Regions from separate parts of the Homo sapiens genome. Here all the other regions are linked to region 1. Evidence: fine-mapped expression QTL. A gene starts in region 1. Each other region holds a variant in brackets. All regions are shown on one strand. Distances are between the middles of the regions. Region 1 holds the start of LY6S-AS1 (LY6S antisense RNA 1). Region 2 has its middle 3.4 kb from the start of LY6L. Region 3 overlaps CYP11B1 (cytochrome P450 family 11 subfamily B member 1). Region 4 overlaps ZC3H3 (zinc finger CCCH-type containing 3).

What was found. PIP is the estimated chance that this variant, and not a neighbour inherited with it, causes the effect.
Region 2: its variant is fine-mapped to the expression of LY6S-AS1 in subcutaneous fat (GTEx, PIP 0.98).
Region 3: its variant is fine-mapped to the expression of LY6S-AS1 in lung (GTEx, PIP 0.91).
Region 4: its variant is fine-mapped to the expression of LY6S-AS1 in subcutaneous fat (GTEx, PIP above 0.99).

What each region holds. Positions count from the first base shown.
Region 1 is chr8:143,036,752-143,042,618 of GRCh38, forward strand. It overlaps LY6S-AS1 (LY6S antisense RNA 1), which reads left to right and starts at 2,458. Exons shown (of 6, transcript NR_149322.1): 1 at 2,458-2,818. It overlaps LY6S (lymphocyte antigen 6 family member S), which reads right to left. Exons shown (of 4, transcript NM_001406478.1): 4 at 4,088-5,867. RefSeq lists enhancers at 2,130-2,681, 4,703-5,278, 5,855-5,867.
Region 2 is chr8:143,074,333-143,080,199 of GRCh38, forward strand. It overlaps a transcript of LY6S not described here. Among named protein-coding and RNA genes, the nearest start is that of LY6L, 3.4 kb to the right of the region's middle. The variant C/T (reference allele first, on the strand shown) is at 2,814.
Region 3 is chr8:142,872,973-142,878,839 of GRCh38, forward strand. CYP11B1 (cytochrome P450 family 11 subfamily B member 1) reads right to left here. Exons shown (of 9, transcript NM_000497.4): 3 at 4,051-4,250; 4 at 3,710-3,913; 5 at 3,269-3,423; 6 at 2,740-2,906; 7 at 2,262-2,340; 8 at 1,985-2,182; 9 at 1-1,514. The coding sequence ends at 1,401. Among named protein-coding and RNA genes, the nearest start is that of CYP11B1, 3.9 kb to the right of the region's middle. The variant G/A (reference allele first, on the strand shown) is at 3,437.
Region 4 is chr8:143,469,771-143,475,637 of GRCh38, forward strand. It overlaps ZC3H3 (zinc finger CCCH-type containing 3), which reads right to left. Exons shown (of 12, transcript NM_015117.3): 5 at 5,628-5,815. Among named protein-coding and RNA genes, the nearest start is that of SNORD149, 34 kb to the right of the region's middle. RefSeq lists an enhancer at 807-1,508. The variant G/A (reference allele first, on the strand shown) is at 2,445.

The sequences.
Region 1 (5,867 bases):
AGCCTCCCAAGTAGCTGGGATTACAGGCTTGTGCACCATGCCCGGCTAATATTTGTTATTTTTTGTAGAGATGAGGTTTCACCATGTTGGCCAGGCTGGTCTCAAACTCCTGACCTAAAATTATCCACCTGCCTCAACCTCCCAAAGTGCTGGAATTACAGGTGTGAGCCACCACGCCCAGCCTTAAAAATGTGGATAATTCTTGTGGGAGACCAGTCAAGAAAAGAAGAGGAGAAAAACAGCCATAATAGCAATGGGGAAAAAATCAGGATCAACAGAGTCTTCAGCCGGGCGCAGTGGCTCACACCTGTAATCCCAACACTTTGGGAAGCCGAGGCAGGTGGATCCCTTGAGCCCAAGGGAGAAATAGCGAAGGGGGACACGTCACACTTTCAAACCATCAGATCTCCTGAGAACTCACTCACTATCACCAGAACAGCAAGGGGGAGGTCTGACCCCACGATCCAATCACCTCCCACGTGGCCCCTCCGCCAATTCCACATGAGATCTGGGCGGGGACACAAATCCAAACCATCTCATCCTGTAACTTCTTTCTCCCTAAAGGGTATAAAATCGAGCTGTACCCCGGCCACCTTGGGCACATGTTCCCCGAACCTCCTGAGTCTCTGTCATGTGAGGTCATGGTCCTCACATTTGGCTCAGAATAAACCTCTTCAAATATTTTAGAGTTTGGCTTTCTTTCATCAACACATCCCATCCTGTAAAACGCAGAGTAAGCCGGAGAGAATGGCTCACACCTGTAATCTCAACACTTTGGGAGACCAAGATGGGAGGATCATTTGAGGCCAGGAGTTCAAGAGACCAGCTTGGCCAACAAAGCAAGACCTCATCTCTAAAAAAAAAATAAGTAAATAAAAACAAATGTGAGTGACTTCACTCTTCTCTCCCAGAGCCTCCAGTTGTCACTTTTCTGAGTTTCTTCAGGGTCTCTTGAACTGTACTCAGGGTGTCAAGAGGTACAGTTGGGAAGGATGGGGGCCTCTAATGAGGGGGTTAAGAGCATCATTCTGGAGGAGACATGAGGGAGGCAGCAGAGAGGGGCTGTGGTGTGGCCTTCACACACTGCAACTCCTGGAGGTCGGGCAGGGGCAGGATGTCCAGACAGTGGACGCATGAGTGGGGAAGCCTTCAGCCACCCTGACTCCACCTAGGAGGTGCCCCAAGGCAGAACCAGCAGCTGAGCCTGGCCAGCCCCGGCAGCGATGAGAGACAGTAGGTTTTGGGGTGACCAACAGGGAGCCCCAGCAGGAGCCCAGCAGGAGAGAGAAGCTGGATATTGATCCTGCTGGCCCCTCCTGCAGTCCGCAGGACTGTCCACAGCCCTCGCTCCTCTTAAGCAGCTCACCTGCCTTGGTGGCCCCTCCCCTCCTGGCCCCTCCTTTTGGGCCTGGGTTGGGGGTGGCAGGGGTCCTGTCCCTGCACCCGGAGTGGAGTGGGATATGGCACTGGAATGTTTCTAGGCAGCCCACTCCTGTAAGAGGGCCTGGGGCTGGGCCCAGTAGTTCACACCTGTAATCGCAGCACTTTGGGAGGCTGAGGCAGGAGGATCGCTTGAGCCTCGGAGTTCGAGAGCAGCCTGGGCAACATAGAGACCCCACTTCTACTTGAGAGACACACAGAGAGAGAGAGAGGGAGGGAGGGAGAGAGGGAGGGAGGGAGAGAGAGAGGGAGGGAGGGAGAGAGAGAGGGAGAGAGGGAGGGAGGGAGAGAGAGAGAGAGAGAGAGAGAGAGAGAGAGAGAGAGAGAGAGAGAGAGAGAGAGAGAGAGAGAGAGAGAGAGAGAGGGAGAGAGAGAGAGAGGGAGGGAGGGAGGGAGGGAGAGAGAGAGGCTTCTGGTAAATGCTCCTATTTTGCAAACTCTCTTCCTATTTTGTGATTAGGATGCTCCATCAGTTTCTGCCACCAGCTTGCTGGAGACGCTGCGTGTCCCTGACTCCTCTCAAAGGGTGAAAAGCTCAGTCGCACCCGAGACCTGCTCCTCAGGCAGAGGATGAACTGAGTCCCCGCCCCACCGCCCGTCTGGCCTCTGTGAGAGTGGCGTGCAGGCTGACCCTGGAAGCAGAGGGACATTCGAACGGGCCGGCGGCCTTCTCCCCGCTAGGCTGGGCTCCGGGGTGGGCGGAGAGTGGCCGCCACAGGCCATCAGCGTCCGGGGTTCTGGAAGCAGGGAGGGCAGAGGCTGGCCCAGCCTATGGGAGACCCTGCAGAGGCGTGGCCTCCAGGCTAATCCTACCCCAGCTGCCCCAGGGCGGGATTTCTTTTCTTTTTTCCTTTAATCTCTTTATCTACAGGCGCCGAGGCTTAATGAGCTCCAGATGTCTCAACATACCAGGAGAGGTTTAGGATCCCCTGCCAAATACAAGGGAGATAAGAACGCACCAGACTTGCACAAACCAGAGCTGGTGACCCCCAGTTCCCTTTAAATCAGCGACATGTCATTACAAGGCGGAAGTCCTGCCCGAGAGGACAGTCCCCAGGCCTTGCTAAGCATGCGTGGTATCAAGAGGTGCATTGAGGCGCTCCTGCAGCCTCCTCCCGGCACGGGACTCCTCACAACCCCCAGCCTCAGCTTCCCTGACAGGGCAGGGGCTCACTCTTCTCCACTCCGGGCCAGGAACGCAGCCTGCTTGCCTTTTGTCCAATTGGGTGCTCTTTCTTTGCGACTGATACAAAGTGGGAACAAACTCCGCTTCCGGTGATGCCCGGGCCCCAGGAGGCTGGGGGAGAAGTGCACGCTGCCCAGCCTTCAACCTGAACTGCCCCCAGCACTTCCGAGCCCCGACCCCTGCAGCTGTGAGGTGAGGTGGGGAGGGGGCGGCCTGCGGGGAGGGGGCTGCCTGCGGGGAGGGGGCTGCCTGCAGGGCGGGCCGTGTGGGTCCCCCGAGCGTGGGGGACCAGTGACGTCAGGCAACATTTCTCCAAAGGCTCCCTCACCTTGTCCTTTGGCATCTGGGGTGCTCAGAGGAAGGGGGAAGCCGGGAGGGTGTGGAGAGGGTCACTGGAGAGGGGAAAGGCCAGAGTGATCCCCTTGGGGACGAGGCAGAGGAAAAGCTGTGGAGACCTAAAGAGAAGAGGTGGGGTGCGCCTGGGCCTCTCAAGTTTGTTTCCCAGAACCAGGGAAGGTTACAGTGGAAGGGAGGACCCTGTGGGGAAGAAGCTTCCAGAGACCTTCTGGAGAGGTGAGCCAAAGGCGAGCCATGGCCAGAAACCCCAGGCCTGCTGCAGTGGAGAGTCAGTGCTGCAGGAGGCTTGGGAATCAGGGCTGCCCTCCTTGGGCTGAACCCTCTATCTAGGGGACAATGGCCCTGGGCAAAAGCACTGCTTTCTGGGCCCCCTGGAGGGTAGGGCATGACACTGTGGTGCTAGAGGCAGGGGGGACATGAGGAGGTAGACGAATGTCCTGAGTCACCAGGTACAACCACTGCACCCCATTGTGACTGCCCCTGTGTCCGACACAGATTTGGGGGGTCTGGAATGTCCCTTGAGCTCCTTAGGCACTCATGAATTTCTAGTTGAGCAAATAAAATGTCCAAGATGCCCAGTTTGATCTGAATCTCAGATAAACAACAAATAGTCATTTTTACCAATGTTTGGGACATACTTATGCTAAAAATTGTTTATCTGAAATTCATATTTAATTGGGCATCTTACCCCATTGACCCTAATTAGCAAATCACATCCAGGAGTACAGGGCATGGCTGGGTGGTGGCTGTCACACTGTGCAGTCAGAGGGACCAGGACGTCTTGGATGCAGGCGTCTGGCCAGCGTGGAAGGCCAGGACCTGGTCACGAGATGTGGCTCCCGGCATGGCAGGTCAAAGACTGCTGGTCGTCTGAGCCCAGCCCTGACTCCAGGCTGAGATGGCCATTCACCCAGACCTTGAGCCCTGCCCTGACTCCAGGCTGAGACGGCCGTCCACCCAGACCATTCTGAGCCCTGCCCTGACCCCAGGCTGAGATGGTCATCTATCGGGGGAAATTCACCCCCGATATTTCATGTAGGTTCTTTTCTATTTTCCCTAAGTGTCGGCCAGTCTGAGAAATAAAGGGACAGAGTACAAAAGAGAGAAATTTCAAAGCTGGGCGTCCGGGGGAGACATCACATGTCGGCAGGTTCCGTGATGCCCCCTGAGCCGTAAAACCAGCAAATTTTTATTAGTGATTTTCAGAAGGGGAGGGAGTGTACAAATAGGATGTGGGTCACAGAGATCACATGCTTCACAAGGTAATAAGATATCACAAGGCAAACGGAGGCAGGGCGAGATCACAGGACCACGGGACCGGGGCGAAATTAAAATTGCTAATGAAGTTTTGGGCACACATTGTCATTGATAACATCTTATCAGGAGACAGGGTTTGAGAGCAGACAACCAGTCTGACCAAAATTTATTAGGCGGGAATTTCCTCATCCTAATAAGCCTGGGAGCACTGCGGGAGACTGGGGCTTATTTCATCCCTTATCTACAACTGTAAAAGGCAGCCGTCCCCAAAGCAGACATTTCAGAGGCCTCCCCTTAGGGATACATTCTCTTTCTCAGGGATGTTCCTTGCTGAGAAAAAGAATTCAGCGATATTTCTCCTATTTGCTTTTGAAAGAAGAGAAATATGGCTCTGTTTCACCTGGCTCACAGGCAACCAGAGTTTAAGGTGATCTCTCTTGTTCCCTGAACGTTGCTGTTACCCTGTTCTTTTTTCAAGGTACCCAGATTTCATATTGTTCAAACACACATGCTCTGCAAACAATTTGTGCAGTTAACACAATCATCACAGGGTCCTGAGGCAATATACATCCTCCTCAGCTTACGAAGATGATGGGATTAAAAGATTAAAGACAGGCATAGGAAATCACAAGGGTATTGATTGGGGAAGTGATAAGTGTCCATGAAATCTTCACAATTTATGTTCAGAGATTGCAGTAAAGACAGGCATAAGAAATTATAAAAGTATTAATTTGGGGAACTAATAAATGTCCATGAAATCTTCACAATTTATGTTCTTCTTCCATGGCTTCAGCCGGTCCCTCTGTTTGGGGTCCCTGACAATAGCCGTCCACCCAGACTGTTCTGAGCCCAGCCCTGACTCCAGGCTGAGACGGCCGTCCACCCAGGGCGTTCTCAGCCCAGCCCTGACTCCAGGCTGAGACGGCCGTCCACCCAGGGCGTTCTCAGCCCAGCCCTGACTCCAGGCTGAGACGGCCGTCCACCCAGGGCGTTCTCAGCCCAGCCCTGACTCCAGGCTGAGACGGCCGTCCACCCAGGGCGTTCTCAGCCCAGCCCTGACTCCAGGCTGAGACGGCCGTCCACCCAGGGCGTTCTCAGCCCAGCCCTGACTCCAGGCTGAGACGACCGTCCACCCAGGGCGTTCTCAGCCCAGCCCTGACTCCAGGCTGAGATGACCGTCCACCCAGACCATTCTGAGCCCAGCCCTGACTTTCTGTCCAGAGTGCAGTCCTGAAGGAGCCCCTTTCTCCCACCACCAGGGGAGACCAGTCTAACCCCTGACACGGGGCATCATGGGAGCCCTAGCCAGGGCACAGAAATGACAGGCCTGGCCCACACCACAGGATGGCTGGTGGCCGCAGGAGCTCTGCCTCTTGGTGACCATCCAGAGGCTCTCTGACAACCCTACTCAGATGTTCCCTGGAGCCACATGGCAAGAGTTCTGCCAGAAGAGCCATGAGCCTGGCACTCTGTGGGTTCTGGTCCCTGGGGGGGCACCCGTGCCCCAGGAGCACCTCCCCAAGGCCATGGTGCCAGCAGGATGTTGCAGAGGCCTGAGGTCAGAGTGGCAGGTGGGCGGCCTCAGGAATGGTGAGGAAGAAGCCGAGTGCTGACGCTGAGTGGGTCA
Region 2 (5,867 bases), 38 kb after region 1:
TATGTGGGTGTGTGTGTTTGTGTACTTTTAATTCTATCTTTTCTCTGTGCTTTATTTTGGATAATTTCTATGGACCTGTCTGAAACTTCATCAATCCTTTTTGCTACTATATGTTTAGTCTGCTCTTAAGCCCATCCAATGAGTTCTTAATTTCAGGTATTATATTAATTGGTTAATATAATAAACACTTATTTTTATTATTTATTTTATTTTTAATAACAAATAATGAGCACCTACTTTCATAGCTTTCATCTCTCTGTTGAAATTCTCCATCTTTTCATCCATTTTGTTCATCCTTTCCTCCATCTCATTTCATGTATTTACAAGAATATTGTAAAGCATTTGTCTGCTAATTCTTTCATCTGGGTTATCTGTGCATCTGCTTCTATTGAATAGCTTATCTCTTGGTTGAAAATCACACTCTCCTGTAATTCTTATAATTTTTGGTAGTGTGCTAGAAATTATATGCAAAAGAACCAAGAAACATCAGTCTCTCCCCGCAGGTAGAGCTCTGCCGATGACTAACCCGCCCTCAGCACCATTCAGCTCCACTGCGAGAAAGGGGCCCCCCAAGACTGGCAGTTCCTTCAGATTTGCACCCACCATTTTCCAATGCATTTGAAAGAAATGATAATTTTTGTACATAATTCCATTTTTTCTCATTGTTGAAATAGAAAGGTTGGCTTCACACTCTTTCCTCATGCTAACTGGACGTGAAAATCTTGTCTTTTTGCATTACAAAATCTGGGAGTTATTTGTCATTATGACTCATTTTTTTCATTTACATTATTCATCTGTGGATCTTTTTTCCTTATTCAGTCTTGCCAGATATTTGTCTAATTTTTGTTCCTTCAAACACACAGCCATGGCTGTGCTGATTTTTCTGTTTTGTTAATAGGCATTCTCAGTCCTGTCTCTTTTCTTCAGTTGAGTTTTGAAATGTGGAGGTTGGACCCTGAGCTTGCTAACTTCAGGCTTCCCACCAGTTTCCCCCTAATAACTCCAGCATTGATCACCTAAGAAAAAAGTCTCCCTCCTACTCACCAAATATCACTCTAATGGCTGAGAACATTATTAATTCAAAAATAAGGCCAGGCACGGTGGCTCACGCCTGTAATCCCAGCACCTTGGGAGGCCGAGGAGGGTGGATCATCTGAGGTCAGGGGTTCAAGACGAGCCTGGGCAACATGATGAAACCCCATCTCTACTAAAAATACAAAAAGTAGCCAGGCGTGGTGGTGCACAACTGTACTCCCAGCTACTTAGGAAGCTGAGACAGGAGAATCACTTGAGCCCGGGAGACAGAAGTTGCAGTGAGCCAAGATCACGTCACTGCACTCCAGCCTGGGCAACAGAACAAGACTCAATCTCAGAGAAAAAAAGAATTTAACCTTTCTTATTTCCCAATGCAAATATATAGGGTTAGATTTTTCTCAGGTACAGCTTTTACTGCAGCCCAATAGTTTTGATAGTAGTATCTTAGTTTTAATCATTTCTAGGTATTTTAATTTCCAATATGACTTCTTCTTTAACTGTGGTTTATTAGAATAGTGGTTTTCAATGTTTTAACATGTGTAACTATGTCACTGATGCTTTTGTTATGAACGTCTGTGCTGGGTCAGAGAATATTGTCAGTGTGGTAAATGTGTCAGTTTGAAAATGATAACAAAATCCTTGCTCACTGTTGCCTTGAAAAAAAATGAAAATGATAACAATCTGTACCTTTAGGACAAAATGAAAGTACCGGACTCTCTGGTTCAAGAGCTCCCTGGTGCCTGTGTGTTTGACTGATTTTGTGAACCAGAAGGATTGTGCGCCGGGGAGACCATTCAGGCTTACTGATGTCACTAAACCCAAAGTCAGAAACAGAACACAATTGCACACAGCTGTCCGTCTAAGAAAGACAGCACCTGATGAATTGCTCAGGCACAGGGAGTGAGGGGCCAGAGTGTGAGGCCCCCACTGCTGACCCAATTCTCTCAGCACCCCCACACCTCTCTGGGGTGCCACTGTTGTTCCTCCTGGGAGCCCTGTCAGCAGCAGAGAGGGGTCTCGCTGGGGACGCCCAGACACCTATCCCCAGATTAAGACAGGGCAAGGAGAAGACCTGTTCCCAGGGAGAGCTGTGCATGGAGCCCCCAAGGCAGGGCCAGGAACTGGAGTGTGAAAGAAGCCAAGTCACCAAAACTATGTAGAGTCAAAAGGGCTAAAGCTCCACAGCCCTAAGAATCAGACACTCAAACCAGGGTTCCACATGGCAAGGGGAGGAGAAAGGCAAGCAAGTTATGACCTGGGCAGAGCCAGGAGGGGCGAGCAAGAAACTGGCCAGGCCCTACACGTGTGCCTGGGGCAAATGGTTACGATCTGAGCTTCCCAACAGCCAAGGTGAGAAGGAAAAAGGGTCAGAGGTATAAGTGTAGCGGGAGCACGATGATCTTCAGTGTCAACAATTCAGCCTGGCAGTCCATAGCAAGAGCACAGGGATGGAGACTGTGGGACTCATTCAGGACACCACTCGGGGAGGCCTCTGGACATCACGCCAAGATCCCCTTCACTGGAAAAATTCCACAGTGTGTTTCCGTCCGTGCCTACACCGGGGTTGGCGCACATACCCACACAGCAGCTTGCTGGCACCCAGCTCTCTGACAGTGAATACAATAAGGGCAGGAAGGAAGGTCATCCACTTCATCTAAACAGGAAGCTTGCACATTTTCCTGATTGAGATCTACACTTTAAAAAGTTAATAAATATATCCACACCCAAAACACTGACACACATAACATTTACGTAACATATTCACATAGATTTATAAC[C/T]GATAAACATATTTACAACATAAAACATAAATATAAAATATGAAATAAAATACCAAACATACTTATAACACATATATTTGTATATCTAAAACATTATATACACACATATATACACAAGCAAAAATATATAAGCATAAATAAAACACATTTTTATTTAAATTACTTTCTTCATTAAAATATATGTGTCCTAATTGTGCATAATGTACTCTGATCTTTATTATTCAATTCAATTCTATTCTTTCATCTTCTAGAACATACAAACATGGTTCCTATTCACCAGCTGGGTTTTATGACCCGGGCTCCTTGGACAGCGCTGCTCCCAGCACCGCTCAGAAGCAGTGCAGAGTGCAGGCCGAGGCTCCATGCGGCTGAGCCGGGCTTGAATTCAGCCCTCTACCTATTACCTGGGTGATCCTGAATCAGGGCAACAACCATCCTGGTTTGCCCAGCACCGAGGGCTTCCCAGGTCGCAGGACTTTGGTGCTAAAATTGGGACATTGATCCCCCATCATGAAGCCAACTCCTCAGGTCTCTGTTCCATTTTATTATTTTTAGAATTGGACTTATTGTACCCACCTCCTAGGATTGAAATCAGGCCAGAAATGAAGAATGTTGATAGAATAAACACTTGACAAACGTCACTGGGGCCTGTGGGCTGTGCTCGTACAGGCCTCTCTGCTGCCAGATGTACACTGGCTCACACACCTGGACAGGTGTTGGAGTCTGGGGCCAGCGGGGTGGGGGCTCCTGACAGAGACCACCAGGAACAAGCAAGCCCTTAACAAGGAGGTGGCCTTGCCTCTCCTGGGCAACTGCAGGACCAAGTCAGGGAACCGTGGAGGCGAAGACCGCAGAGCCATGCCCCCGCCCTCAGACCCAAATCTTTGCTCTGGGCTGTTTTGAAGCCTGTCCATGAACTGTACTCATTCCAGGGGTGCCTCCAGGAACAGCCACAGGCTGTGCCCGCCAGGGAGCTGGAGTGATACGTGATGGGGATAACTGCATGACCCAGCAAAGTATCCTGGGAACACCAGGCCTGCACCCGCCCACCCTGCTGACCACAGGCTGACTGACCCTTTCCCGTCCCTGGTTAGTCCCCACCACCTCCAGGGGCTGCTGTGTCTGGGAGTTAATTCATGAAGGAGAGAAGAAATGAGGCCAGGAGCACAGCTGGATGCAGTACTGAGGAACTTGGTCAGCCCTGGGGAGGGCCAGTCCCTTCTCGTGAGCACTGAAAGCTGTGTGGCTCCGAGCACGGCCCTCTCGGCCGTGGCTGCCCCAACACCCTGTCATCAGCCACAGGCTCAGATGAGTCTCTGCAGATCCCTCAGCCACTTCCTTTGAGACCTGTGTGTTCCTTCCAGCCTCCAACCTCCAACTACCACCTGGACTCCTTTATTGCATGTGCCTCCAATGCCGATGTTCTTTTGATTTTTCTTTTTGATTTTTGACTCTGCAGATTTCACAGTGCCAAATTCATTCAAATCAATCACAGTGAGAATGGCAAATGAAAAAATGCACATGATAAACAAATTGCATATGGCCCCTCCCCTCCAAACAACTTCCATCCCGTGCCCTCTAAGCCCACCCCCAAAACAGCCCTGATCCACACACAGGCTGGGCGGCAGAAAGGGCTGGAGCATCAGAGGACAAAGGGAGCAGAGGACGCTGAGCCCGGACAGGCAGGGGTCAGAGGGCAGGGCCCGTCTGGGGCATCCCTAGAGCATGCACCAGGGGAAACAGGAACGGGACAGTCCTGCTGGGTGGGCCACTATGTGGACGCAGGGGAAATGGCCCCACCTGGCTGCACACTCACTCTCCGACTGGCACTTTCTCTCCCAGCAGCCGTTACTGGAAAGGCCACAGCAGGGGAGGGGCTTGCTGGTCTGCAGTGCGGGAGAGGATGCGGAGGCCCTGGAGGTGGTGGGCAGCAGTCACGCTGGGGCCAGGGGCAGCCCTTCCCAACCACCTTATGGGTAGCAGTTACCCCTTTCTTCTTTCCGAGACCTACCTCCTGCAAGACCCCTGAGGGCAGGTGACTGGGCCGGTTCACTGCTGCAGACCCAGGGTCCAGCCCTGCTTGTCATCATACATGCTCAAAAGGATGTCATTCAGGAAATGAAGGCAGGAAGCAGAAAAGAGCAAACCTGACACGGGGTGAAAGCTGTGTGACCACCTGGGCTGGAGGGAAGGGCTCCGAGGAGGAAAGTGGCTCGGTGGTCCTCCAGACTGAGGACAGCATTTCCTGACATCACCTGGGTCTGGCAGGGCCCTGTGCCCCCGGTGAGGCGGGAGAGGGTGTGACAGTACCTCCGGAGGGGAGAGCTGGGTGCCCACCAACCGGGATGTCCATGCTGTTGGGTTCCAGCGGCCCAGTGAGAACACGGGTCAACTCCCTTGGCTCCCGGGGAAAAAACAGAATAAAGAATAGGACCAAGGGAAGACTCAGTGTAGGAGGCAGATGAGTCTAGTGAGGAGGGCGCAGGTCTATGCTATGACGGGGGCGGCCTCACACTCTGCATCCAGGACCTACATGGGGCCGAGCAGATGCTGCAAAAGAAATTGGAACCACAGCCTCCAACGGGCCCAGGGACGCTTTAGCACTCGACAGACCCGGCTGGGCCCCAGCCTCACCTGTGGGAGGACGAAGTGTGGGAGGACAGAGCTGGGAGGCAGCCTGCACAGGAGCCGTTTTTCCAGGGCACCAGTCTTCAAAGGCCGGGACTCAGCCCCCTGCAGGTCCCAGAAATTTGGCAGGAGTCCTGGAGCTGCAGCTCCCAACCCCTGCGGCAGCTCCAGGCTCCTGTAAGGCTATGGGAGCACGCCCTGCTTTCCTCTGGGCAACTGAGCCAGCCTGAGGGGCCCCTGGAGGCGCCTGCCCTTCTCCTCCCTTCTCCCCTCCTCCCAGGCCACCCCTGCCAGGGGAAAGCGCTCCAAGCACTCTAGAAAGAACGAAGATTATGTGCCTGTGGCCTAACCATCCCCGCCAACCTCATTTGCCCTTAACTATGCTCCTTCCTGGATCTGCCTGGCCGGCTCCTGTTCCATCTCAGG
Region 3 (5,867 bases), 160 kb before region 1:
CCTGCTGACACCTTGATCTTAGCCTTCTAAGCCTTCAGAACCATGAGAAATAGAATTCTGATGTTTGTCAGCAACCCAGTCTATGGCGTTTTCTTAGAGCATCCTGAATAGATTAACACAAATAACTCTAGCTAGGTGTGCTCCCAACCTGGGGCACTTCATCTCCCTGTACAGGCTGAGTCCTGCAGGGCGTCCTGGATCTACTGACCACCACTGGAATGATGCCATAGGGATTTCCCCTTTCATGGGGGAACAAATGCTCTGATCCTCATCAGCCACCAGGAGCTGGCTGCTGTGATCTTTGCCCTGATGAAAATCCATGGAGATAAAGACAGTCTGGCTGGGTACACTCTCAAACTGGGTGCTTCCTCTCCCTGCACGGGAGCACTGGGGAGTGGCCAGTTCAGGAGGGGTCAACTCTCTCTGCTGGGCTAGGAGCAGATGAGGCCCAAGGCAGGTTCACGCAGGAAACTGCAGCCTCCCTGTGCCCACCCCAGGTCGTGGCACATGACATGGCTCCGTATCAACCAGAGAAATGAGTCAATAAAACTCGTCTGAGTCCTTGTTGGCCCAATCCTGTCTCTCCTGTTGCCAAAAACATTTCTGGAACCACACCCCAGGTTCCCACCCCACATGACTCTTCCATCTCCTGACAGCATCCTCGGGACCTTCCCCAGGGGACAGCACAGGAAGCAGAGGACCCAACACCCACTCCTGGAACAAGGCCTGGTCCATGAAAGATGAGGCCTGGGGCATGAGGCTGACACGATCAGCTGGGGAACACACGTCCCTCGAGACTCAGTTGTATCACTTGAAAATGGGGATGTCAGGACAAGTGACCACAGGGGCCTTTTTATTCTACCCTGCAGGACCCTATTCCAGGGTGACAACTTTCAGAGAGCTCAGGGCATGCTCGAGCTGCCTAGGGGTCAGGCTGCAGGAGGGAACTTGACTGGACTCTGAGATGCTGGGATCCCGCTTAATGACTCTGACAGTCTGCGCAGGGGCCCTGGCCAGGGGAAGAGGAACAGGGACATGTGAGACTAGGCAGGAAGGCAAGGGACAAAACCACAGCACCCTTGTATGGCCACACGAGGAGCCTGGAGCCAGCACTGGGAGGGATGGGGGCAAACTGCCCAGAGGACAGTGCTTGCTGGAGAAAGGGCCAGGTGGGGCTGGGGACAAGGTCAGCAAGATCTTCCCCAGCTGTGCCCTGGCATTGCTGCTTAGCCTGGCAAACCCTGGTCCTAGAGGCCCTCGGGAGTTCCATTTGTGCTGGGGCTGGTTAGACAGAGGGGTGACTCAGGAAGCTGTGCATGTGGGAGAGAAGAGGGGTGGCCTGGGGTCAGGCAGAAAGGGAGGCTGGTGGCCAGGCTGGGACCCTGGGTGCAGAGACGTGATTAGTTGATGGCTCTGAAGGTGAGGAGGGGGAACATGCTGGGCCTCAATATGAAGCTGTAGACCATCTTTATGTCCTCTTGGGTTAGTGTCTCCACCTGGAGGTGTTTCAGCACCTAGGACAGAAGCCGGGTTTCCATCTGGCTTGGTCCGCAGCCCATGCACGTGGTGCAGCCTTCTCAGACCCTCAAAGTTGCAGAGATTATGCTGAAGGGGGAACAGCAGCCTGGCCTCCAACCTGTTTCATTCCTGACCAGCCCCACCTTACAGCCCAGGCCCAGAATTCATCCAGCCCAGGTATTGCCCAAGCCCCACTATCCTGTACAGGCTCCACCCGACTTCCCCAGTTCCCACCTGACCCGGTTTAGCAGCAACCTCACCCAGATGGTACGCTCCTCACCATACCAACTCCTGCCCAGGACCTACACAGCCTCAACCTGGCCCAGGTTCTCCCAGTACCGGCTCTGCCCAGTCCAGGAAACATGCAGGCCACTCCCACTCTGCCGAGGCCAGTCCCACATTGCTCAAGCCCCGCCCATGCTGCCCAGACCCCGCCCAGGCCCCTCCCCAGCCCGGGCCTGCTCACATGGTGCAGCAGCAGCAGCATCTCTGCCTCTGCCAGGCGCCGCCCAAGGCACTGGCGCATGCCAAAGCCAAAGGGCACGTGGTAGAAGTTCCTGCCGGAGCCCCTGATGTCTAGCCAGCGCTGGGGGTTATAGCGCTCAGGCCTCGGGAACAAGGCGGGGTTGCGACCCAGAGAGTAGAGGAACACGCGCACCAATGTCTGCGGACGGTGCAGAGCGGGGATCAGGGAATGACTGGGGAGGGAGGTTCTCAGCTCGAGGGGTGTGGGGCTCACTCACCCCAGCTGGGATGTGGTAGTTCTGAAGCACCAAGTCTGAGCTCGCCACTCGCTCCAGAAACAGACCCACAGGGTAGAGCCTGGAGGTGGGGGCATCCATAGAAAGGGTCCTCAGCTGGATGGGGCTTCCTGTGCTCTCTGCACCCTTCCTACCGAAGAACCCGCAGAGGTCCCAGATCCATGGGAAGCCCAGGTCGTAGGAAGTGCTTCCTTGCACCTGCTGAGCCCGGCCAAACCTCCCCTAACTTAAGCAGCCCCGAGCGCAGAAGGACATGCTCCACGTTAATCCCCAGGGCGTTGAAGAGGGATTCCAGAGAAAGAAGAGCTCCCTGTCCTTGAGGGGGAGGAAGAGCAGGTGCAGGGGAATGGGCTGCTGGGTGACGCTGTTTATCAGCCCCAGATTCTGTCTGCCACCACCCAGTGGGGGCTGCTCTCCAGCAGGGGGCCAGGGCCACAGGGAGGCCTCAGCCAGCACCCACCGCAAGGTCTCCTTGAGGGCCGCACGCAGCAAGGGCAGCTCGGTGGTTGCCTTCTGGGGATGTTCACTGATGCTGGCTGCGGCGGCCAGGCTCTCCTGGCGCAGGGCCTGCTGCACGTTGGGGTTCCGAGCCAGCTCAAAGAGCGTCATCAGCAAGGGAAACACCGTCTGCAGGAGACACAGCTGCAGGGTCAGACCTTGCACAGGAGGACTCAGCCCCCGGGACACCCCTCCCAGGACAACCTCCCTGTGAGGGGTGCAGACATGCATACCCTGAGAACGACAGAGCCCAAGACTTCAAATCCTAATGCCCATCCAAACCCCTTTCCCTGAGTCCTCCACAGAAAGGAACCCCCCATTCCAACCATGGCAACCTGCAAACGTGTTTATCACATCACAATCCCAAGTAAGAAATGTGGGGCCCATAGCCTGGGGATGGGACACGTGGGCGCCGTGTGACATTGGCAGGCAGTGCCTGGGAGGCAGGCTTGGCATCACCCTCTCTGGGTGGGGCTGGTTGCCGGCCTGACCGTGTCCACGCTCCCTGCAGTGAGTTCCATAGAGTTGGCCTTGATGGCATCTGGCGACAGTTCCGCATTCAACAGGAGCTCCGCCACGATGCTGGTGTACTGTTGAGGGCGGCTGAAGGCCAGTTCCTGATAGATTTTCTGGATACAGTTGTCGCCTATCCGGGGAGC[G/A]GGAGGCAGCCCTCAGACTTTGGTGCTGGGAGACATCCTTCAGTGTCCTCCTCCTGCCCAGACTGCCCCGACACCCAAGTCTCCCTGCTCTCATCCCAAATTCTCCGGATCAGCCCAGCCCAGCCCCAGCCTCGCACCAATCTCCCTGGCAGGAAGGTGAGGAATCCCCGACCCCTCCCTGTGGCCTCCATTCCCCACTGGGTGGTGGAGAGGGAGAAATTGGGCCCCCATGGTGTCCCTTCCCCATAGCACTGCCCGGGTCCCTGGCCTCACCGTACTGGAAGATGCAGTCCCAGGCCTCAAAGTGCTCCTTCCACACCTTGGGGCTGGTCCAGCGAGACAGGCTCCTGGGCATGAACATGAGCTGGACGGTGGATTTGAACATGACCTCCAGGGCATGGAGGAAGTTCAGGCTGGCAGAACTGGGGCTGTGGCCAACCAGGCCCAGCCGCTCTCCAAAAAGAGCCAAGTTGCTGGCTGCGGGGAGGATGCACTGCTGAGCACAAGGCAGCCCCGGGCCTCCTGGCTGCCTCCCCACACTCCCTTCAGTCCCCCATCCCCGTCCCTGGCCACTCCAGGGTCTCTGAGGCTGGATCTTCCCACGTGGCCCACACCTTCTATGGTGTAGTGGAAGATGCTGGGCTGGACGTCCAGGGTCAGGCTCCCCCGGGCGTTCTGCAGCACCTTCTTCTTCAGGGCCTGGGAGAAGTCCCTGGCCACTGCATCCACCATCGGGAGGAACCTCTGCACAGCGTTGGGCGACAGCACTTCTGGATTCAGCCGCAATCGGTTGAAGCGCCATTCAGGCCCATTCCTACAGAGGCCAGGGCAGAGCTTGTGAGGCCGCCCCAGCAAGACACAGGCCCTGACCCGTATCCCATCCTCCTTGTCCCCAAGGGGAATCGGCCTGCAGGGAGCTGACTGGGGGCCCTGGTAGAAGCTGCCTGTTTGTGTTCGAGCTGCAGCCTTTTCTCAGAGCGGCCTCCAGGTGCTGGACAAAGGCCACTCAGGTCTAAGCAGGGATGAGATGGTAGCTTCTGCCCACAGGTGCTGACAGGGTAACTGAGGTCATTCCCGGGACCTGGCACCCCAAGTCTGGCACCACCTCACCCATGCAGGCCCTCCCTGTAGTAGGGGGGAGGGATTTTCTGCAAGAAAGGAACTGACCCCTGTTGTCAAGCTTTGCCCACCTCACCCACACAGTGTCCTGAGGGGAGAGCCCCTGGCTGCCCTCTCCTCCCCGCCCTTCCCTGCCCTGGGCACAGTGCCTCTGGGGCAGCAGCCCCAGTGAAGTGTCTGCATCTTCTGCAGGACAGAAACCAAGCTTTGTGCTTCATGCCATCCTCACCTACAGCCAGAGTGCGTGGGGGCTCCATGGATGCCCCCAGGGAATGGTGGGGAGGAATTTCCCCTGTCAGCCACATTTCTGCAAAACTCAAAGCTTTATTTATGTCCAGCTGGCTGTTGTGAGCTGTTGACAGTGATGGCAGGCAGAAGATGCACATGCTCACATGCGCCCATGCAAGACCTCAACACCATGTGTGAAGAGACACATGTACACATGTGCACAGACACTACACCCATGCCGGCACCTGCACATGCACACACAGAGACACTCGTGCACACACACCACACATACATGCACACAGACACATGTGCACACACGCATGCACACACAACACGTGCAAATGCAGGTACAGAGAAACACACAGCATGTGCACAGATGCAAGACGCACACACATACAGGTGCGCTCCCCTTCCTTCCGTTATGTGCACCCAGCCTTCTGGACTTGCCTTCCTGGGTCCTGACTCCCTCCCAGATGTCGTCTGTAGGCCAGCCTCAGTGAAGGCCCCCACCCTTGAGTGCCCTTTTACCTAAACCCCACTATTCCCAAAAGCGTTCTCCTCCTGCCATGGAGTGGGGGCTGTCGCCACTGTGACATCCTCGTCCAGTCCTTCCCCCGTCCTAATGACAACATTCCTGCAGGTGACTGACTCCAAGCATCAGCCTCTCCCTGCCCACCTGACCAGGCGCCACCCTCTGCACGGGCCAGGAAACATCCTCCCCAGTGCCATCAACCGCCCCACCTCGTGCCTTGCTTCTGAGAACAATGGAGCCACCAGCCACCTGCATCCCCACCTGCCTCCTGCCCCGGACTGTCCCCATCAGGAAGGTTTGCCAGGACTGCAGGGACCCTGAGCGCCCTGAGGGAGGCTGCGGCCCCGGCGAACACCAGGCTCAGTACTCAGCCTGTGACCTGGGCCAGTGGGAGTACCCTTCTCAGGGCCTCAGTTTTCTGACCTATGGGAAGGACAGTCCCCAGACCGCAAGAGAAAGCATCGGCCAAGGTTGGTGCAGAGCGGGTTCTCACTACACAGAAGGGCTCATTGCTCTGCATCTTCTCTGCAGAGGTGCCCGTGCCCATTTCTC
Region 4 (5,867 bases), 430 kb after region 1:
CGGGGTGGGCAGGGCAGGACCAGCCTGCTGAGGGCGGCTTTCCCGGGTTCCTCAAATACGCGCATGATCCTTCCCAGACCAGATCCAATTTCCTACAGGGCAAATGCTGAAATGGACACTGCAGTTAAGAGGCAGAGGTGACATCACTCAGAAATTCTGGGGACCTGAGGTGGTGACAAAGCCATCCTGGTTTAAAAAGGGATGTCCCAAAGCCGCCCAGCCCCAAATAGCCAGACCTGCCCCACTCTTGAGCACCAGAGAGCAGCCTCGTCCTCACTCTCCCAGATGGCCCAGCAGCCGCAGACTCCCACCCGAGGACCCAAGGCTTCCGCTCCCTCGCACCCCCAGGCTGGAGCCCCCCCCACTCCTCGCTTTGTGCTTTGCGTCCAGCCCAGTGCTCCCTAGCTAGGGTCAGTGGTGCTGCTGCCCTTCACCCTCAGGGGCCCTGCCTACTGTCCCCACTCAGCCCGTCTCAAGTTTCAAAAGGGCAGCTCCAGAGCTGAGTGGCCAGCGAGCCCGGCTGGGGCAGGAGCAGGAGCTAGTCATGGTACCTGGGGCAGGAAAGGGGGCGTTGAAGAACGCAGAAACCTGAGGCGTGTGGGGGGCCAGGGGCAAAGGGAGGGTGATGAGGGTCTTGGTGCGGAGGGACCAACGCGGGGGTGCTCAGGGCAGCCCCCGTTCTCAGGCCGGGACCCTTGTCCCCGGGTGGGCAGCAGGGCCCAGTCCAGACGGCACGGGCACGCCCTCACACCTGCCAGCCTGTGGGGTGAGGGACGCGGCAATGCGGCGGTCTGTCGGCACTGCTGGTTCCCAGTCTCTCGCCCAGGCTGCCAGTGACACTGCGACGCCATCTGCTCCAGGCAGGGACACACTGGCATCACGTGCCCGCCTGGCAGGACCGGGTGCAGCAGGAGGGGTTACCTCCCTTTCCACTTTGTGCTCTTTAAAAAAATGCCAGTGTGAGGCTCACGGCAGGAGTTCTGACAAGAACAGGAGGCACTTTTTCAAATGCTTTGCAGTGTTAAAAAATGCACATAAAATAGCTGGCTGGAAAAGAAGCAAGGGCTGCCTGAGAAGTGCTAAAAAGTTCAACTGAATAACCCCCAGCAGCTCCACAGCAGAAGGCGCCATGCATTCCAGAGAACTTTCACTTCCCCGGGATCTTCTCAGAATAGACTCGGCTCCCACCAGCCCCACCCCCTGCTCGGTGCCCCAGTGCCAGCTCTGGGCACCGCTGGATGTCAGGCTCTGCAAGGCAAGCGGGGTGGGGGCCTTGCAGTCAGAGGTTCCTCAGCACCTCCAGGCCCTGCTCCGGCCAGCACCCACTGGACAGCTGCTGCCTGGCCCAAGGGACAACATCCACGATGACCGGGGCACGCAGGCAGCCCCAATTCCCAGGCCAGCACTCTCCCAAGAAGTTAGGCAGGGCTGCGCCAAGCCCTGGTCTGCTCACAGCGCGCCCACCAGGCCCTCCAGGGCACGTCCGTCTGGCACATGGAGGCTGTGCCCTTGGGAGAAGGCAGCCAGCGGCAGAGGGTGCCCCAGAAGAGGCAGTGTGGGGCGGGGGCAAGCCGACAGGGCCTTCGTCACCCCAGGGAGGGTGGGCAGGTGACCAGCAGGGGAGGCGCAGAGGCCGGACGTGCCAGGAACACGCAGCAGCTGGCCCACAGCAGGGAGGGCCACGGCCACAGGTGGCTGGGGGCTTTGGGGACACAGAACAAGCCAAGGCCAGCCCTGTGGCCAGAGACTGGGGCCTCTGCCCCACCACAGGAGCCATCAGGCTCATGGTGGCCACATATGGGCCATGCTCACTGGGGGCCCACACAGGATTCTGTGGGGAGGGACCCTGGAGCTCAGGCCTTCAGGTGGCAGGCGGGCCCAGGAGGGAGGGCTCGGCTTCAGGGACTGGGGAAGCTGGGGGTAGAAGCCATACTGTCCTCTGCCGTCAGGGGCCCAGAGCCCAGGGGGTCAGCCAGGACAGCCACCCCCACCCCTTCCAAGAAGGCTGCTGCACTTTCTTGTTGAAGTCAAATTTCTGCTGACACCAGGGGAGGAAATTTATTTCTTTAATTATTATTCCTCTTAAGTGGGCTGGTCAGCGGTATCCCACAGCTGGGAGCCATCTACCTTCCTCATGGCGAGGCGGGGCCGGTGGTGGCCCAGGCAGCTGGAGCTGTGGCCTCGCCTGTCGACCCAAAGGGCGAGTGCGGCCTCACTGGGCTCTGCACAGCCCCAGGACTGCCACAGTCGCCACCAAGGCTGGCCAGCGGGACACCGGAGGCCATAGCCCTACTCGATGGCAGGCGGGCCTCCCCAGGGGCAGGGGTGGGAGCAAGGAGGCCCCTGGACCCCTGCCTGCCCTGGCTGGCACCAGCCTCTGTGCGCCAGACCCTCCTTGCTGGCGTTGCTGAGGCTGAATGAAGGAGTTCTGGGTTGCTGCTGGT[G/A]CAGGGGTGAGACATGCCCCAGAAGGGCTGGGGGAACCAGACTGGCTCTCTGATGGCTCTGGGCCAAGGGAAGGGCCAACGGAGGCAGAGGCCAGTCAGCAAGGGTGGCCGGGATAGACTGTTCACAGTGTGGTGACGTCAGGGGCTCTGCGCCCGCCAGGGCTCTGCCATGTGTGTAAATGGCAAGGCGAGATTCTGCGGAGCTCAGCACTTGGCACCGACGGGGAGACACAGCAGCACCACAGCCTCCCAGGGAGGAGTGTGCAGCCCCTCCCTCTCCTCCCCACTGCTGAGCGGGCCAGGGCTATGCACTCCCTCCTCCCCAAAGCTCAGACCCTGGGCCATCCGGGTGGTGGGCACCGTGTCTGAGGGGGCCAAGTGCAAACCTGCTGCCTGCCACAGGCGTCTCTGTGGACACTGAGGGATGGGAGAGCTGGGATGGCAGGTGCACCTCCCCACACAGGCCCACCCAGCCCAACAAACGTGGGCCACAGGATCCCGGCGAGGGCTGAGACGACCCAAGGGCCCCGGTGCGGGGAGACGGACCCATGCCACAAGCCCCTCCGTGGGTCCCGCGGGTGCACGGTGCAGGGAGAATCCCAAGGACGCACCGCGACCTGGGTGAACAGGCGGGGCCAGCCTTGGCCCTGTGCAGGGAGTGGGATGCAGCTGCTGCAGTGGGGGCCACTCCCTGAGTGGGTGGGTCCTCCCTGGGATGGGCTCTGGCTCTGGAAAGGGCAGTAGGCATCCCCTCCCTGGCTCCAGCTTCCGCAGAGCAGGGCAGGGCCTGCAGACTGACTGCCAGGAGCAGCCTCTGCTGCCTATCCTGGCCGCCTGGGGCTCTCGCGTACGTCAGGACATCATGGTCTCCATGGCTGCTGTCTTGGCCACTTAATTATCAACCTCAGTCAGTACTACTATCGTGACTACCGGGAGCTTTCTGAATGTGGGTGCAGTGGTGCCAGGTAGACCCCGCCTGCCCCCAACCCATCTCCTCCCCCTGCTGGCTGTGCACAGGGTCCTGCGATGCCTCACGCCCCCTCCCACTCCTGCCCAGGCCTCTGCATGGCGGCCTCAGGATGCTCTTGCTGCTTCTGTCCCTTCTGGGCCCTCTCAGTTTTCAGCTCATGAGAAAGGCCTCCCTGACCACCTGACTGGACACGAGTCTGCGTATTTACACCTGTGGGCCCCAGGAATCTTCACTGGTGTTCAGCCCACGCCTCTCCCTGCACTAGGGACGTCAGAGGCAGCATCCATGGGAGATGCAGGGCACCCTCCCACCCAGGCAGGCAGGTGAGGGCTCGGGGTGCCCTTCCCTGGGCAGAGGGATCAGCCTGGCTGCTCTGCCCACTGCCTCTAGGACCAGAGAGGAAAGCCAGTGCCAGGACTGTGCCTGCAGTGTCAGTGCACTCAGGACAGTGCCAGCCAACGTGGGGCTTGGCCTCTGCCAAGGAGGCCCAGGGGAAGGTGGGACCACCCGGCATGAGCAGAGAGGCACCTCATGGCTTTGTCCCTGGGGGTCAAGCACGATGTCCTCAGAGCACCTGCTGCTGGCCCCGGGAGCTCCACTGGTCAGGGTCCCTGTTGGCTCACATGGCTGGTGGCTGGTGGACGGCCACAGGCGCCTGGGACCTGCTGTGCCAGAGACTGGCCAGGGGCTTATACTTCACTCAGGGAAATGACTGCTGGAGAGAAGCCCGAGGCCCCTCCCCTCCACGATACAAACAGCTGTGTGTAGCCCCACAGGCCACCAAGCTCCAGAGTCCGAGGATCAGAGGTAACCAGAGAAGGCCCTGCTGGGTGACAGGAAGGCCTATCCCCCAACCCACGGCAGCATCCCCCAGGGGCAAAGCCTCACCAAGGCCCCCATGTTCTGAGCCAGCTCCTGCACTGAGCACCCGGGGTGTAGCAGAGATGAGACCACACGCACAAATCACACAGCCCAGTCCCTCAAGGTACGGGTGGGGAAGCGGAGGCACACACAGGGGTGACACAGTGCCCAGGAAGGGACCCAGGGCTTCTCACCAGATCCTCAGTGAGTGGGAGGCACACACAGGGGTGACACAGTGCCGAGGAAGGGACCCAGGGCTTCTCACCAGATCCTCAGCGAGTGGGGATTTATTCCTGCCCAGTTCACCAGGACCCCCCAGCCCCAGCCACCAGGCTACAGGCATGGTCATGGGCACTGACCAGCCACAGTGTGGCTCAGAGCCCTGTGGGGCAGGTGCCAGGGCCCCCGTGCTGCTCCCAGCGACTCTGCCCAGGAAACAGCCCAGAAGCCCCTGGAGCCCAGAGATGGATGCTAGGAACACAGCCAGGCAGGGCGGCCAGTGAGGCTGGCTTCCAGGGAGGTACGCTTCCTGCCTCTCCTCTGACCCCCGCAGACCCTGCCGTCGGAGTCTACCTCCTCCAGGGGCTGAACCTGTTCTCTCTCTAGGTCCCAGGCGGGTCGGGGAGCCAGCATGGCCCAGCCTCTGCAATCCCAACACCACCTGCAATCTCCCTCTTTTTTTTTGATGGACAAGAAAGGGGGTAAAATTGGACTGAAACCAAAATATTTTTCTAGTTAATTTGTAGGATAAGTGAATCCAAAGCATTTCCTTCTCCTGAGCCTGTTTCCCTGGGCTGGGAGGGCGCAAGGTGGCGGCGCCGGCTGCCTCCAGACACAGTTGTCGAGGCGTCGCCAATGCGATTACGGGCGCCGCGGCCCCAGGTGTGCGCTCGCCCGGGCGTGTTTGCCGTACCTGGCATCATCCTTTTTCCAAAAGCGAAACATGGTGCTTGTGAGCAACTCTCCCCCACCCCACAGAAAATCAGGGGCCGCTCAGCCACGCGAGGTGGGCGCCACTCCAGGGCCCTTCCTGGGGGATGGCAGAGGAAGGCCTCCTGGCACCCTCCATTCTCCGGCTGCCCTGTTGGTCTCACTAGGGATGGCTACGAAGGCGCCGGGTGTATGGAAGAGTGAAATTAACTCCCAGGATGGGACGTGACCCATTTGGGAAGTGCTTGTTTGGACTGGCTCCCTGGGAGCATGAGGCCCCTGACCTCCTCCCCAAGACAGGGGCGTGAGCCAAGGCCCAGAGCAGCCACAGCATGTTGGAGGTTAGGGGGTCTGGCCTGCAATGCCCACCACACGCTAGCCGGTCGGTGTCATCTCCCAGCGCCCCCGCCCTCACCTCTCACCTGTGCGCAGGAGGGGCCTGCTGCCCGCATCACTGGGCTGGCCGGAGGTCTTGGAGAGCTTGTTGGCAGATACTTTGTAGAGGACCCCTCCGATGCAGCGGTAGCCTTTGCTCCGCCACCAAGGGGAGCCCGGTTGGGCTTTCCCACCCCCGCTGGCAACTGGACGCAGGCGGTTCAGCACCAGGGACCTGCAGAGACAGGAAATGCCCGTCAAACCTGGCCCCAGGACAGACTACAGCT